Linked DNA regions of Homo sapiens: region 2 is linked to region 1. The links come from fine-mapping of genetic effects on gene expression. Tissue or cell type: testis. Region 1 holds a variant in brackets; the other region holds the start of a gene. All regions are shown on one strand. Distances are between the middles of the regions.

Region 1 (5,899 bases):
CTTGAAAACCGGCCTCTGGGGCTATCTCTATGGCTTTGACACCTGCCTTCATTGAGGCCCCTCTTAGAGTTATGGTCCCCCAGGAAAGGAGAACCGGGCTGAGAGCATCCAACCTGGAGACTCTAAAGGACGCCCCACAGTGGGGGCAAGTGGGGTGGGGGACCCTGACTCTTAGGTATTTGAGGGGTCAGGGGGTCCTACAGAGAAACGTGCTTCCCTCCTGCTTGTGAAGCATTCAGGATGCACCCGACGCAGGGTCAGAGGTGCGGGGTGAGGAGAGAGTCACCAAGCAGAGGCCCGTGGGTGGGGTGTTGGCAAGGAGGGACAAGGCCTGGTGGCAAGAGCCAGGGGCTGACAGTATTCCATGCCCAAGTTCCAAGCCTGGTTCATTCTGACGACTTCACCGAGCCTTACGTTTCCTCACCTGTAAAACGGGGCTAATGGCCCCTGCCTCGTGGTTGGTGCGTGAGGCTTGTATGAGAGGCATCTATAAAGCACCTGGCATACGGCGCGTGCTCAACAGGCAGCTGTGGCTCTTACTGCCTGGCTGCTACCTGGTGAGGAGCCAGCCTCTCCCAGAAAGCCCTGGGTCTCTGGAACTGCCCAGAGGACAGCCCTGGCATGGCACTTGGCCGCTGGAAGTGTCTCCAGCTGTGGCCAGGCAAAAGGCTTGCGGCCTCACTGGGGAGACCCTATGAGGCAGGAACCAGGTCTGTCTGAGCCTCGCACGACAAACCCTTGGGAAGCATCTGGGACTGAACTGGGGCTGACACGAGGCCATGGCCATTGGGATGTCCTTCGCCCTGAGGGCACCACCAGCTGGCCTGCCACTTTAGGCTGGTAGGAGGCCAGGGAGACAGGGGAATGCCATCCTTGCCTCCGAGCACCCTGGGGGAAATCCCACCTCAAGTCCCCTCCACTCCACCCAAGGGCGTCTGCATTTGGAAAGCTGCTCCCGGCGAAGTGGGCAGCCCAGTGCCCCATGCCCAGCCCCAGGGCCCACCTGCGAAGGTCGGCGTCAGGCTGTGGAAGCTGTCTGGCTTCTGCAGCTCTCTGCGCACCTGCTCACTGTAAGACTGGTACTGGCCCACGACGGCACTGCCCCTCTGCAGGCCCCGCAGCGCCTGGAAGACCTGAAGCTTGTGCCGCAGCACAGCCTCCGCACTGCTGACATTGTGGGGCAGCTCCATGGCCACGAGGGTGAGGACCTCCGTCAGATGGTTCTGGAGGACGTCGCGAATGACACCGTACTCCTCATAGAAGCTGGTGCGGCCTGGTGGAGGGAGGTGGAGAAGTGGGGAGGATCTAAAGAGAGGCCAGAACATCAGATCTCCCCGAGGTGCACCAAAACCCCAGCCCGCACATTCATCCTGCATCCTCTTCCCCCAGTCCACAGGGCCTATAAAAATGGTGCACACCAAAGCCAACCTCACCACGAGAAGGGAGGGAGGAAGTCTTGAAGCCACCTCTGTCAATGAGAACTACTGTAAGAGAAGGCGTCAAATCCGTGAGCCTCTACAGAAATCCACATGAAGAAAGCTCTATTCCCAGCAAAGGCCAGATTGCCTCTGTAGATACTGGCCAGCCCCTCGCCCCGCCCTGCCTGGCCACTGCCAGTAGGAGGCTCGGCACTGTGGGGGCTATGGCACCATGGCGGGGGCTGCAGCACCCCAGAGTATGACTGCCACTTACTAGCATGTGATCTTGGGTAAGTTACTTGACTTTTGTTCCTGCATCCTGCCCTTGGATGAGACTAACAAGTGCCACCTCACTACCGGGCGCACACCTGTGCCAGGCAATGTGCAGGGGAGTGGGAGGGAGGGAAAGTGGGAAGAAGAGAAAAGGAAGTAAACAAAATTACAGAGCAGTTGTGACAGAGGGTAATGAAAAGGCCCCTCCGAGACCTGAAGAGCCAGCCTCGCAAAAAGCCAGGGAGAAAGCATCTCAGCTGCAGGGACCCTCAGGTGCCAAAGCCCCGAGGCAGGAAGGAACTTGGTGTGCTGGGGGCCAGATGGAGGTGAGCAAAGAGTGGGGACAGCGGTGAGGCTGGAGAGGAGATCAGGGGTCTTGCAGGATAAGGCGAAGAGGCTGGACTTTTTTCTAAGATCAGTTGTAGGGGGGACACTGGAGGATCTGAGGCAGGAGAAGACGAGACCTGACCTATATTGGGGATCGACCCCTGGTCTTGGGGGGAGAATGGGTGCAGATGCAGGGAAGGCAAGGAAGAGGCTGCACAGCTGCCCAGCAGAGACGACAGGGCCTGGACTAATGGGCAGTACAGGAGCTGGAGGGGAGGGAGAGGCACCCCAGAGTCAGGATTGACTGGACCTGCTGACAGATGGGGTGGGTGTGAGCAAAATGGAGGCCCCCAACATGAGCCCTGGAAGTGGGGCCTGAGCAGAGGGATGGGCAGTGGAGGCGCTCACAGACACGGGGAGGCGGAAGCAGAGGGGTTTGGTGGAGGGTTTAGGTGTGTTTAGGCTGAAGACCCCCAGGCGCAGATGTCCAGTTGTCAGGTGTACGGGGTAACTGTGACGATAAAAGGGAAGAACACCTGGAGAACATGGAGCAGCACGACCAGCATAACAACAGCAACATAACAACACCAGCCTAACAACACAACACCAGCATAACAGCAGTGCAGCAACACCAGCGTAACAACAACATAACAACACCAATGTAACAACAGCAACATAACAACATTGGCGTAACATAACAACATCAGAATAACAGCAGTGCAACACCAGTGTAACAACAACATAACAACAGCAGAGTAACAACGGCAACATAACAGCAGCAACGTAACAACACTGGTGTAACAACAGCAACGTAACAACACTGGCGTAACAGCAACATAACACTGGTGTAACAACATAACACCAGCATAACAACAACAAAACAACACCAGCATAACAACATAACACCACCGTAACAACAGCAACATAACAACACTGGTGTAACAACAATGCAACACCAGTGTAACAACAGCAACATAACACTGGTGTAACAACAATATAACAACACTGGCGTAACAACAGCAACATAACAGCACTGGCGTAACGACAACATAACAGCACTGGTGTAACGACATAACACTGG[C/T]GTAACAACAGCAACACCAGTGTCAACAGCAATGTAACAACACCAGCATAACAACAACATAACACCAGCTTAACAACAGCAATATAACACCAGCTAACAGCAACGTAACAACACTGGCGTAACAACATAACGACACCGGCGTAACAACAGCAACGTAACAACACCGGAGTAACAACATAACACCAGCATAACAGCAGTGCAACAACACCAGCATAACAACATAACAACAGTAACATAATACCAGTGTAACAACAACATAACAGCAGAGTAACAACAGCAACATAACACCACCAGCATAACAACAACGTAACAACACTGGCGTAACAACAGCAACATAACACTGGTGTAACAACAACATAACACCGGCGTAACACCAGCATAACAACAACAAAACAACACCAGCATAACAACATAACACCACCGTAACAACAGCAACATAACAACACTGGTGTAACAACAATGTAACACCAGTGTAACAACAGCAACATAACACCGGTGTAACAACAATATAACAACACTGGCGTAACAACAGCAACATAACACCGGTGTTAAGAGCAATGTAACAACACCAGCATAACAACAACGTAACACCAGCTTAATAACAGCAATATAACACCATTGTAACAGCAACGTAACAACACTGGTGTGACAATGTAACAACACTGGAATAACAGCAACATAATACTAGTGTAACAACCACATAACACCAGCATAACAGCAACGTAACAACACTGGCGTAACAACAATATAACAACACCAGCATAACAACATAACAACACTGGCTTAACAGCAACATAACACTGGTGTAACAACAAGTTGTTGTAACACCACCACCAGTGTAACAACAACACAACACTGGCGCAACAATGGTGTAACCATACAACACCAGTGTAACAACAACATAACAACACTGGTGTAACAACAGCAACATAACAACACCGGTGTGGCCAGGCATGGTGGCTCACGCCCATAATCCCAGCACTTTGGGAGGCCAAGGCAGGCGGATCACGAGGTCAGGAGATCGAGACCATCCTAACATGGTGAAACCCCGTCTCTACTAAAAAATACAAAAAATTAGCTGGGCGTGGTGGCGGGCGCCTGTAGTCCCAGCTACTTGGGAGGCTGAGGCAGGAGAATGGCGTGAACCCAGGAGGCAGAGCTTGCAGTGAGCTGAGATCGCACCACTACACTCCAGCCTGGGCGACAGAGCGAGACTCTGCCTCAAAAACAAAAACAAACAAACAAAAAACATCAGTGTAACAACAGCAACATAACACCATCATCGTAACAGCAATGTAACACTGGCATAACAACATAACACCGATGTAACAACAGCAACATAACAACACCAGCGTAACAACAACATAACAACAGTAACACAACACCAGCATAACAACAACATAACAACACCAGAGTAACAACAGCAATGTAACAACACTGGTGTAACAACAACATAACAACACCAGCATAACAATGTAACAACACCGATGTAACAGCAGCAACATAACAACACCGGTGTAACAACAACATAACACTGGTGTAACAATGTAACACCAGCGTAACAACAACAAAACAACACCGGCATAACACTGGCACAACACCGGCATAACAGCAACATAACAACGGTGTTAACAGCAATGTTACAACACCAGCATAACAATATAACACCAGCTTAACAGCAATGTAACAACACTGGTGTAACAGCAACATAACACCAGTGTAACAACACAACACCGGCATAACAATGGTGTACAACACCGGTGTAACAACAACATAACACTGGTGTAACAACAGCATAACAACAGCAACATTAACACTGACATAACAACATAACAACACTGGGATAAGAATGACAACACCAGTGTAACAACAACATAACACTGGTGTAACAACAATGTAACAACCCTGGCGTAACAATATCGGTATAACAACGTAACAACACGGGTGTAACAACAGCAACGTAACAACACTGATGTAACAACACCAACATAACACCACCAGCGTAACAACAGCAACATAACAACACTGGCGTAACAACACCGGTGTAACAATAGCAACGTAACAACACCAGCATAACAACACCAACGCTGACAGCAGCCCCGGCCCGCGCCGCTCCTCCCCATACTCACAAAGACCCTGCACGCAGGCACCGTGATCACTCCTGCTCCGCGAGTGAGGAAGGAGGCAGGTGACCAGGCGCGGGGGCAGAAGCAGACACTGCTTAACCACGAGCTCCGCTCCACTCCCTCCTCTGAGGCTGAACCCCGGTGAGCACTGATTATCGGTGACTCGAATATACAGGACAGTCCCAGAGATCAGGGTTCCAACGCATACCACCTCGCAGGAGAGTTCCAATGCCCAAGTCTCCTCACACCCTCACCTACAGAGAGAGCCTGGCCTCAGACACGAGGAGCCATCATTTCTCAAAGGCTTCTGCACGTAGGACCCCTAACCTGGGATTTGTTTGTTCACCCAGCAAACTCCCAGTCATCCTTAAGGGCTCAGCTTCTAGGAGCTTTGGCCTACCCCTTCTGAGGGGCCCTGGCTTCTTCTAGCCCAGCTGACTGTAATTCAGGCCTGTTTCTCTTTCTTCCCCACTACGAGGGAGGCTCCATCTGAGTGGCATCTGCCCTCTGCTGCATCCCTAGCCCCTAACACAGCACTACGTTCAGACAGTGGACAGCAGAGAAAATGAAGATCCACACATTGTCACGGATAAACCTCCAAGACGTAATGTGGTGAGAAAGCAACATGATTACTTTGATAAAATAAAAATTAACTTGAAAATAGGATATAGGCC
Region 2 (5,899 bases), 26 kb after region 1:
AGCTTACTACTTGGAACAACACTTTTAATAATAAAAGAGCTATTTATGGAGTATTTAACTATATGCCAAATGCTAGGCTATCGGTGTGACATGCATCACACCATTTAAATCTTGCCACAACCATATGAGGTAGGTAACATGATTATCCCCATCTTAGCAGGGAGTAGAGAGGAAACTAAGGCAAAGAGAAGTCAAATAACATGGCCAGGCGCAGTGGCTTACGCCTATAATCCCAGCACTTTGGGAGGCTGAGGCAGGAGGATCATTGGAGGTCGGGAGTTTAAAACCAGCCTGGCCAACACGGTGAAACCCCGTCTCTACTAACAATACAAAAATTAGCCAGGCGTGGTGGCAGGTGCCTGTAATCCCAGCTACTTGGGAGGCTGAGGGAGCAGAATCACTTGAACCTAGGAGGCGAACGTTGCAGTGAGCTGAGATTGCGCCCCTGGGCAACAGAGCAAGACTCCATCTCAAAAAAAAAAAAAAAAAAAAAAAAAAGAGAAGTCAAATAACTTACCAAAGGTCAAGCAGCTAGAGGTGATAGGATTTGAATACAGGCAGTCTGGTCCCAGAGCTAACCTTCCCGTAAAATGTGACTACATCCCTGAATGGCAAAATGTAAAACACTGTATTACATTTACACTGTATCAGTGTAGATACTGAACAGTGGTTTAAACCAGACAGGCTGTTTCTCTGCTCCATGAAGTCAAGCTGTTCCGAACACTAACTGCGGTAACCAGCCTCTGCCTCCCGGGTCCGCTTTGCCTTTCACAGTTCTTCCTTCTGACATCATGAAGACATCATGTATAAGCCTCAGTTGCTTTGTTGAAACGTGGAAGACCTTCAAGGGCTAGTTTTTGGAGAACTGGTTACATAAGAATATTCTGGATTCAAATCCCTGCCACTCAGTAACTATGTACCCTCAGACAAGTTATTTAACCTCTCTGTACCTCAACCACAGAATGGGAAAACAAATCGATGGGAAGCATGTAAGGTACTTAGCACAATGCCTGGCATACAGTAAGCACCCAAGAAATCCTAGCTGCTTTTTTTTTTTTTTTTTTTTAAGGAGAAGTCTAGCTTTGTCACCCAGGCTGGAGTGCAGTGGCACGATCTTGGTTCACTGCAACCTCCGTCACCGGAGGCAGGGCGGTTCAAGCGATTTTCCTGCCTTAGCCTCCCCAGCAGCTGGGATTACAGGCATCCGCTGCCCCCATGCCCAGCAAATTTTTGTATTTTTAGTAGAGACGGGGTTTCACCATGTTGGCAAGGCTGGTCTTGAACTCTTCAAGTGACCTGCCCGCCCTGGCCTCCGAAAGTGTTGGGATTACAGGCGTGAGCCACTGGGCCCGGCCAGAAATGTTAGTTTCTATCATTAAACCATTAGCTTCACGAATGAAGTCCTTCTTGCTAGCTTCTTGAACTGCTGTTAAAACCAACTAACCAGCTGGGCGCGGTGGTTCATGCCTGTAATCCCAGCACTTTGGGAGGCCGAGGTGGTGGATCACCTGAGGTCAGCAGTTCAAGACAAGCCTGGATAACATAGTGAAACCCTGTTTCTACTAAAAAATACATAAAATTAGCCGGGTGTGGTGGCACGCGCCTGTAATCCCAGCCACTCAGGAGGCTGAGGTGGAAGAATCGCTTGAACCAGGAGGAGAAGGTTGCAGTGGGCCGAGATCGCGCCATTGCACTCCAGCTTGGGCAACAACTAACCATCAACCACAGAAAAATGCCAAGGAAAAACTCAGACAGCTTTTCATGATCTTCCAATCATAATGATGAAAAATTAAAGGGATATGATGCATAATTTAAAATACGCTGTCTGGGCGTGGTGCTTCACACCTGTAATCCCAACACTTCGTAAGGCTTAAGCAGGAGGATCGCTTGAGCCCAGGAGTTCGAGACCAGCCAGGGCAACATAGTGAGACCACTGTCTCTACAAAAGGTTTAAAAATTAGCCAGGCGTGGTGGTGTGCGCCTGTGGTCCCAGCTACCCCGGAGGCTGAGGCAGGACGATGGCCTGAGCCCAAGAGGTGGAGGCTGCAGGGAACCGTGTTTGTGCCACTGTACTCCAGCCTGGGCAACCAAGCAAGACCCCATCTTTTATAAGTAAAAGATTTTTTACTTTTATATAAAAAAGTAAAAAGATAAAATAAAAAATATGCCCATTTGACACCAGTTTTCCCTCATCTGCTGCCTTTCATGAGCCATGGGCCTGTTGTGGGTGCAGGGGGAGTGGGCAAGGACACTTCTTTCCAGAAGTTCTCACTTCTGGCTAAGCATTCAAGGTTGGGTGAGCTGATTTTCAGAGATCCAGAGAGGTTTGCCCCTGGAAAACCGTTCACTAGATCCGGGTACGGGAAACGCTATGTGAAACCCGAGGGCCAATCAATGCCAAAGATTAAGCAGGTCCCGGGGGAAATCTCGGAGTTCCCCCTCTCCTGGAACTCAGTTCCGGGAAGCCCAGGGAAAGGACAGCTCGGCCGCTCGGGGCGACCCTGGAGGGAGCCTGGCCGCCTCCTGAGCAGTTCCAAAGCCGCCAGCCCCAGGCTCCGTGGGGCTGGCAGCGCAGGCTCCGGGGCTCGGCGCGGCCTCGGGCCCGGCGGCAGCGCGGGTTGGAGGCGCCGGGGCCGGGGCGGCGGCGGGGCCGGCGGGGGGCGCTTACTTCCTCTCGCGCGGCGGCGCAGGCCGCTCCTCCGGGACACGGCCGGGGCGGCGCTGAGGGCCGGGCCCGCTCCCGAGGGCTCCCCTGCGCCCTGGGCCGCACCTCCTCTTCCGCAGGGCCCGTCACTCCGACAAGTGCGCGTGTCACGCGGCCACGCGCCGCACGACACTCCGATACCGCCCGCGGAGCCCGCGGCGGCCGCAGGGGAAGGCGCGAGGCCAAGGCCAGCCCGGCCGCCACCCCGCCCCAGGCCTCAGGCCTCAGGCCTCCACCGCCTTGCGCTCAGCAAGACTGGGGCCCGGGCCGGGGGCGCGCGCGGCGGGGGCGCGCGCGGCGGGGGCGGGGGCGGGGCGGGGGCGCCGGCGAGGCCACGCCCTCCGCTGGCGGCCGCCGGGGCGGGGCCTCGGAGCTTCCGGGGCGAGGCGGTGGGTCAGCTCCGAGCCTCCGCCCCCGCCCTTCCCTTCGGCCCCCTGGTGGCCGTGCGTCCTAGAGCTGTCCTGCCGCGTCCGAGACGCGCGCGGGACCCAGAAGTGGCCGAGGGACGTGGTTGTGTCGTGGAGGGGACCCGGGGTGCTGGCTGCTCCCTACGATCTGGCACCCGCTCTGGGACTCCTCAGGCCTCGCTTTTCCCCATCTGTAGAATGAGCGGCTCGGTCTTTCCCGTCTTCAATATCCAGAGTAGGGATTTAGAAGTCGGAGCGCACACGCTGGCCACGCCTCCGCGCACAGCTTCAGATCTCTGCCACCCCTTATCACTTGTGTGACCCTGAGTTCAGTTTCTTCATCTGTACAGTGGGGACAATGGGAGTACCTGCCTCCGGGGTTGTCTGGCACTTGGGTGCTTAGTAAGCGGAAGCTTGGACCCGTGTGGCAAATAGAAGACTTTTGCTAAGACATTGCTAAGAAAGACAGCAAATGGAATCAGGGCTTCTCTGTAGGGTGAGAGGTATTTAAGTGAGAAAACGGGATCAGCTGCCTCTCAGAGCACTCAGTCCCCTTCCTGTCCCCCACCATTATCAGGCAGTAGGTGGCCCTCACCATGCTCCCCAACCTGCTCCCCACTTTTTCTTTTTTCTTTCTTTTCTTTTCTTTTTTTCTTTTTTTTTTTTTTTTTTTTTTTTGAGACAGGGTCTCGCTCTGTCACCCATGCTGGAGTGCAGTGGCGCTATCACAGCTCACTGCAGCCTCCGCCTCCCAGGCTCAAGTGATCCTCCCGCCTCAGCCTCCCAAGTAACTGGGATCACAGATGTTCGCCACCACTCCTGACTAATTTTTCAACTTTTTGTAGAGACGGGGTCTCACTTTGTTGCCCAGGCTGGTCTCGAACTCCTGGGCCCAAGTGATTCTCCCACGTTGGCCTCCCAAAGTGCTGGGAGGAGATTCTGACCTGAGAGAGAAACTGTGCTGCAGCTTTTTATTTCCCGATGGTTCCATTAGAGGTGGGAGCGTCTGGAACTAGCAGTGGCAACTTGGCAGTGGCCGGCAGGACTGAATGGGGCCAACAGGCATGATTACCACACAGGATGTTAGGCAAGGGGTTCCGGGAAGGCTGGGAACTGAGGGGAGCTGGGCCTCACCGTCACCAAGGCCAGAGGCCATCCGGGCGCCCGCAGAGGGCTGCCAAGCCTCGGCAAGGATTTAGGTCACACTGAGTGGGCCTGGCAGAGGGGGGAGCCAGGGAGCCAGGCACTCTCTGGGCTACCTCCACAGCTGGAAGTGAGCAGGAGGGCTTAGGGCAGGAGCGGGCCAGAGCAGACTCGAATGATGCCGGGACTCTTGGCCTAGAGCCCTTCCCATGTTCTGTGGCCCTGAGTGTGTCAGGCACCCACATAGCTCTGAAAACCAGGGCCCAGGAAGGCACAGATAGAAGTGGGCAGGTGTCCAGAGGCATGACCGGGGGTTCGTTTCCCAGATCTCCATGTGGCCATCAGAGGGTGATCTGCTACCTTGAGGGCTTCTTATAAATAGCCCCAGGTCAGGCGTAGTGGCTCATGCCTGTAATCACAGCACTTTGGGAGGCCGAGGCAGGTGGATCCCCTGAGGTCAGTAGTTCGAGACCAGCCTGGCCAACATGATGAAATCCCATCTCTACTAATAATACAAAAAAAAAAAAAAAAGCCAAGCGTGGTGGCGTGCCTGTAGTCCTAGCTACTCAGATGGCTGAGGCACGAGAATCGCTTGAATCCAGGATGCAGAGGTTGCAGTGAGCCAAGATCGCGCCATTGCACTCCAGCCAGGGCAACAGGGTGAAACTGTGTCAAAAAAAAAAAAAAAAAAAGCCAGGCACGGTGGCTCACGCCTGTAATCCCAGCACTTTGAGAGGCCGAGGCGGGTGGATCACCTGAGGTCGGGAGTTCGAGACCAGCCTGACCAATATGGTGAAACCATGTCTCTACTAAAACTACAAAATTAGCTGGGTGTGGTGGCGCATGCCTGTAATCCCAGCTACTCGGGAGGCTGAGGCAGGAGAATAGCTTGAACCTGGGAGGTGGAGGTTGCGGGGAGCTGAGATCGCGCCACTGCATTCCAGCCTGGGCAACAAGAGTGAAACTCGGTCTCAAAAAAAAAAAAAAAGAAAAAAAAACAAAGCCCCAAACCAAGTCAGTTGTAACCTGCTTACTAAGAAAACGTCCACCTGATTAGGTAACGTTGGGGTGGGGTCTGAGGGGGGAATTAGCCTAGGGGGTCACAATGCCCTCCCAACCCTATGTCCACTCCCACACCACCCTGAGATGTTTCATTTCTCCGCCTGTCTTTCCTCACCTTACCTTCACCTCAGTCTCATCCTGCCTCTGTACCTTCCAGTTTTCTCTGGGCAATCAGTTGCTTTGCTTTCTTTCCATCATGAAGACGATTAGGTCGTGCTAAGACCCAGTCATCCTGGTGTGAGAGTACTGCCACCCAAAACACAAAAATCGAAAACTTTGTCCCTGTGGGCCCTGGCATTGGTTTCTGCACCTTTGCCTGTCTGAAGCTTTTCTTGTTTCCGTGCTGACCGCAGCTACAAGGGACCAGGTGTGCCCAGAACCCCGTGAAGGAAGCCGGGAGAATGAAGGAAGCCGGGAGAAAGGAATGATGCCCCATGGGTGGTCCAGGGGGTGTCCTGTGACCAGAATTCTGTCTGTGGTTTATCTCGTGCTTTATAAGGAGCGCCCTGGGGCTCTATTTATGAAGTGGATTTTTGGGGATTTTTCTTCCTAGCCCTTTAACTGTGGTGTAGGCAGAAGTCAG

The links. PIP is the estimated chance that this variant, and not a neighbour inherited with it, causes the effect.
Region 2: it holds the start of H6PD, and the variant in region 1 is fine-mapped to the expression of H6PD in testis (GTEx, PIP 0.94).

Annotation. Positions count from the first base shown.
Region 1 is chr1:9,257,433-9,263,331 of GRCh38, reverse strand. It overlaps H6PD (hexose-6-phosphate dehydrogenase/glucose 1-dehydrogenase), which reads right to left. Exons shown (of 5, transcript NM_004285.4): 4 at 1,004-1,273. Among named protein-coding and RNA genes, the nearest start is that of H6PD, 26 kb to the right of the region's middle. The variant C/T (reference allele first, on the strand shown) is at 3,100.
Region 2 is chr1:9,231,836-9,237,734 of GRCh38, reverse strand. H6PD (hexose-6-phosphate dehydrogenase/glucose 1-dehydrogenase) reads right to left here and starts at 2,961. Exons shown (of 5, transcript NM_004285.4): 1 at 2,669-2,961. RefSeq lists a silencer at 2,549-3,108.